Regions from separate parts of the Homo sapiens genome. Here region 1 is linked to region 2. Evidence: fine-mapped expression QTL. Tissue or cell type: tibial nerve. Region 2 holds a variant in brackets; the other region holds the start of a gene. All regions are shown on one strand. Distances are between the middles of the regions.

Region 1 (2,684 bases), 210 kb before region 2:
TCGCTTGAGTTGGAGGTTACAGTGAGCTATGATCACACCACTGCACTTCAGCCTGGCGAGACAGCGGATACCTTGTCTTTAGAAAGCAAAACAAAACAATTTACACACACACACACACACACACACTCTCCCTAATTCGGCTTGAGTTGGAGGTTACAGTGAGCTATGATCACACCACTGCACTTCAGCCTGGCGAGACAGCGGAGACCTTGTCTTTAGAAAGCAAAACAAAACAATTTACACATACACACACACACACACGCACACACACACTCTCCCTAATTCGGCCTACTCAAGCACGATACCAAATAGATGAAGAATATCTAATTAAATGGCCATAAAAAGTTCTAGTTCATGACATCCAAGTTTAAAGAATCAAAATGAGTTACGAGAAAACAAACACAAGCTTTAAGAAGTTGGGGAGAAGATGTGCGTGGATTCGCTTCAAAGATGTGACAGAGAGAAAAGAGGACATTTTCTGGACTGGAGATTCAAGACAGTCTGGTTCAGGTTGCATGCTTTTGCAAAGGCTAAAGCCTTAGTCTGTGACATAAATTTGTAAAGAGCTCGGAAAATTACATCTCGGACATGGTGTCTTTTTTTCCTGCTGCTTGAAGGTCTTTGCATTTATGTTCGCATCACTGGGGCAGCTGCCGCTATAATTACTGCTTGTTGGGACTTTTTGTTTACTTGGTAGCTGTGGTGCACCAAGAGAGGCAGAAAAAGAAGAAAAAAAACCTCTGTTACTTGTGACGTTAAGAAGTCGAAAGCAGCCCTGCTTACATCTTCCACGGACCATTTTAGCCCAAGGGAAGGTCCTCAGCAGCTCTAACACGTAGCGGAGCACTATCTCCGCGTAGGAGCGCTCCCGCCCCGGGGCGGGACCAGGACAAACCCCGCCTCCCAAGCCCAATCCCAGCTCTCCGCCGGCGGACAGGAAGCGGCGGCAGGCCTAGCAGCACGGGAACCGTCCCCCGCGCGCATGCGCGCGCCCCTGAAGCGCCTGGGGGACGGGTAGGGGCGGGAGGTAGGGGCGCGGCTCCGCGTGCCAGTTGGGTGCCCGCGCGTCACGTGGTGAGGAAGGAGGCGGAGGTCTGAGTTTCGAAGGAGGGGGGGAGAGAAGAGGGAACGAGCAAGGGAAGGAAAGCGGGGAAAGGAGGAAGGAAACGAACGAGGGGGAGGGAGGTCCCTGTTTTGGAGGAGCTAGGAGCGTTGCCGGCCCCTGAAGTGGAGCGAGAGGGAGGTGCTTCGCCGTTTCTCCTGCCAGGGGAGGTCCCGGCTTCCCGTGGAGGCTCCGGACCAAGCCCCTTCAGCTTCTCCCTCCGGATCGATGTGCTGCTGTTAACCCGTGAGGAGGCGGCGGCGGCGGCAGCGGCAGCGGAAGATGGTGTTGCTGAGAGTGTTAATTCTGCTCCTCTCCTGGGCGGCGGGGATGGGAGGTGAGGCACGACTGCGAGCGCCGGGGGCGCCGCGACCACGGCGGAGCGGCGGCCGGGCCGAGCGGAGCCCAGTCGCGCCTCGCGGCGTGCGCGTCAGTCAGCCCAGCCGGCCAGCGGCGCCACTCTGGCGGGCCGCGCTCCCCGCTCCCTATTGTCCCCCGCGCCCCGACCGCTTTCCCTTCGGTGGCGGGCCGAGGAGGCTCCCAAGCCTCCGGCGAGGCCTTCCCCGCCCCCCACCGCCCTGGCGGCCCCGGGAGGCGGGGGTCGCCTCCCAGAGAAGCGAAGTCGGGGCATCCGCGTCGCCTGGTGAGAGCGGTGGAACCCAGGCTGGTGGCTGCATCCCTCCAGTCTGCTCGGCGGGCGCCGGTGCAGGCAGCCGCAGCGAGGCTGGCGGTCTCGCCGTCCTCGTTCAGCGCTCATCCTGCTCACCATTCCTCCCCCAGCCCCTGCCCGGTGGCGGATTCCGAAGTCCTCTCCGCCGCCGAGACCCGCCGCGCAGACTCGTGGGAAGTTGTGTTGTTTGCAGCTGGGCTCGTGTATTGTTCTTTACCCGGCGCGCCGGTCCTGACCGACCCCATTCTGCAGAGGGGCCGCCCGTGGAGTGGCAGCAGTCATCACCCGCTTATCTGAGACTAGTGGCCTCGGTTCTTCCTGTGTCCTGTGTTTGGAGAGAGATCACAGGAGGGTGTGTTGGTGTTCTTGAAAACATTCTGTCGCCCAGGGGAAAGGGTTTGGTCGGGAGAAGGGTAAACCATTTGGGGATGTTCTTTGATTTGTAGGCTGGATTGGGTCTCTTAGAGTAGAAGTTCGGTCCCTGGGTGACCCAACTTGAAGAGTTTCGTTAAACTTTCAGGTGGAGTAGATGTACAGTGTAGTTAGTGGATTGTCAAAACAGTGCCCCCTCCCCCCTGCACATGAAAGTCAAATTTGCTAAAAGCATGTCATTTCTTGTTTCGGGTTTTGAAGACAACGATTTTTATTTCCGGTGTGTTCTAGGACCAGCTGCATCATTTTATTCTTGCTTAAAGTGCTTTATTTTAGGTAAGCTTTTTGACTTGCCCCAGAGTAAACTTAAAAACCTCAAGGTGTGCCTAAAAGCAACGATTGAAAAAATTTGAGGAATGCTTTGGATGAGTGTCTGTAGCCTTTGATAATTTAGAAAATATCTATTTCATGTAATGTATTGTTTCTGTTTTTTTCTTTGCCACTTTGACTTATGACTGCAGGACCAAGTGTATTTCTGTC
Region 2 (2,684 bases):
GGAATTGAGGCTATAATTTGCTCTGAATTCTCTGGAACAGCAATCCATGACATTGGTCATGTTTGAAAGAATGTCACAAGTCCTCTCATGAGCGCTGATCCCTCACAATAAGTGTTGGGGTGTTTTAATGATGAGCCTGTTGGAAAAGCAGGTCCTTGTTGGATGCCCCTATGGAGTGGAGATCAGTGTGTGAGTTATTAGGCATGGTTACCTGTGATTCTCCCAATCTTGTGCGTTCCACCGATGGAACTGCCGGCAAATCCTGACACGTGTGCACCCAGGCTGTACCCAATTAGGTGAACATGGCTTCGAGAGAGTTGCACAGATTCCTGGAAGACAGCAGCGGGATGGGGGCAGGAGAAGAGCTGCCTGGATGAAAGCCTTTTGCGGTCCAGTGTGTTGTGGCGCCCACCCTGTTCTTCGTGCCTGCTCAGAAATGAGGTGCCTTATTCACACTCCAAACTGAAACTAATCTCTCAACTGGCTGACTCTCCTGGGACTCAGGTACCTGTGACCTCGCCTTGTAGCTGCAGCCTCCTGCCTGCCTGTCTTCCCCTGGACACTAATGCCCTACAGAAGTGATCCCACTCATTTGTGTGGGGGCTTGATAGCTTACAGGGTGTGTTTGTATCCCTTAGCATGTCTAAGGGGGTGAGCATAAGAGGAATAGTGGATGAGGAGAGGGGAGAAGGTGGTTCTGTGAAACAGGGGTTCAAGGGAGGCGTCTGAGAGAGCCCTGGGGTCTGGTGTCAGTCCTGTGCCTTCTCATTCCTGTGAGCTGAGCATTAGTGCTTCTCCTGCCTGGGCTGCTGTTGGAGACCAGCTTAATTCATTCACTCTCAGAGGAAGGGAAAGGAGGGAAGGGAGGTGAAGGAAGGATGGGGCAGGTCGGTACCTCCAGCCACCGGAGAAGAGCCGCGACCTCCTTGCCCACAAGGCGGGTGTTGCGGACGGCGATGGTGTAGTGGTCGTGGGCCAGGGTGATCCAGTCCACCAGCCCCACGTTCACTGGCTGGGCCGGCTGAGACTTCAGCGCGGCCACCATCTGCCAGATCCAGTTTTCTAGCACGCCGTCCACCTGAGGAGGGGACAGAGGGAGGGTCGCACTAGTTTCCTTTCTCCCCGCTCACCCTTCTTCCTTCTCCAGCTCCTGGATAATGCTGGAGGAAGGGCTTGCTATGACGTTTCTCAGCCATGCACAGTTGACATTTTGGGCCAGAGAATTCCTTGTTGTGGGGGCTGTCTTGGGCATTGTACGATGTTTAGCAGCATTCCTGGCCTTCACCAACTAGATGCCAGCAACACCCACCCACTGCCCC[A/G]GGTTTTGAAAACCAAAAATGTCTCCAGATTTTTCCAAACGTTCCCCCCCGCCCCCTCCCGAGAACAATTATCTTAATGTTTTTCCTCTTAGGGACTTTCTAAACCTTAAAACAGTGGAGAAATATGTGTAAATCAGGTCCTGGAAGCTGACCTGTCCCTTAGGGCCATTTGTACGCCTCCTTCTGCGTGCAGCTGCCCCACCTCACCCCTAAACCCATAGCACTGGCTCTGCCCTGCAGACTGCGTTATGCTGGACTTAGCGGGATGGGCACTGTGAGCCTGACATAGTAGGAGGTAAAAAATGTTTACAGAGAATTGTTCTGTGTGTGTGCCTTGTTTGAGAACCAATTTGCAGGGCACTCCTAATGGATTTACAGAGCAAAGACACTTGTGCTGGGCCTTAAAGGATCAATAGGAGTCCAGTAAGACGAATATGGGTGGGGGCTGGGCGCGGTGGCTCATGCTTGTACTCCTAGCACTTTGGGAGGCCAAGGCAGGGGGATTGCTTGAGCCTAGGAGTTTAAGACCAGCCTGGGGAACATGGTGAAACCCCATCTCCACAAAAAATACAAAAGTTAGCCAGGTGTGATGGTGCATGCCTCTAGCCCCAGCTACTCCAGAGTCTGAGGTGGGAGGATGGCTTGAGCCTAGGAGGTCGAGTCTGCAGTGAGCTGAGATCACACTGCCCTCCAGCCTGGGCGATAGAGTGAGACCCTATCGCAACAAAACAAAACAAAGAAACAAAAAGAATACAGGTGGGCAGGTGAATGTGGTAGTGGTGAGGTCTAGGGCATCCCAGGCAGAAGGAACAGTGCGTGCAGAGTCACAGAATCATGAAAGGGCAGTGTGGTATGTCAGGGGAGAGGAGGAAAGTTGGTGAGGTGAAGGCTAGACAATAGGAGGTGAAGGCTTGACAATAGCGGGTGAAGCTGGAGAGCTCCCCTGAGGGCCTGTCATGCCATTCCAGGGTAAGATGCATTCCTTTACTAGATATTTACCAAGTGCCTTCTATGTGCATGGAGCATCTTGGGTTCAAATCTAGGCTCTCCTAGTTTCTAGCTGAGTAACCTTGGGCAAGTTATTTTTCTCTGTGCTTCAGTTTTCTCACCTGGAAAATGGGGTTAATAATGCTCTCCTTCCAGGATTGTTATGAAGGAGAAATACGTTAATAGATCTAAAGCGCTTAGAGCAGTGTCTGGAACATAGTAAGGACTCAACAAATGTTCGTTACTGCAGTTGTTGTTGTTATTAATATTAGCAGTAATAGGAGGAGGAGACATATACTAGGTTGGACAGAATTTTGATAATGAAGAGTGCATTTTGGTAAAAGCATCCTGGTAAGAGGCTCCTGTGGTCCTCATGTT

What was found. PIP is the estimated chance that this variant, and not a neighbour inherited with it, causes the effect.
Region 1: it holds the start of ADAM10, and the variant in region 2 is fine-mapped to the expression of ADAM10 in tibial nerve (GTEx, PIP above 0.99).

Annotation. Positions count from the first base shown.
Region 1 is chr15:58,748,235-58,750,918 of GRCh38, reverse strand. ADAM10 (ADAM metallopeptidase domain 10) reads left to right here and starts at 1,212. Exons shown (of 16, transcript NM_001110.4): 1 at 1,212-1,439. The coding sequence starts at 1,385. RefSeq lists enhancers at 593-772, 1,863-1,992, 1,444-2,079 and silencers at 843-1,132, 1,463-1,752.
Region 2 is chr15:58,540,179-58,542,862 of GRCh38, reverse strand. LIPC (lipase C, hepatic type) reads right to left here. Exons shown (of 9, transcript NM_000236.3): 3 at 896-1,078; 4 at 212-329. Among named protein-coding and RNA genes, the nearest start is that of LIPC-AS1, 43 kb to the right of the region's middle. The variant A/G (reference allele first, on the strand shown) is at 1,320.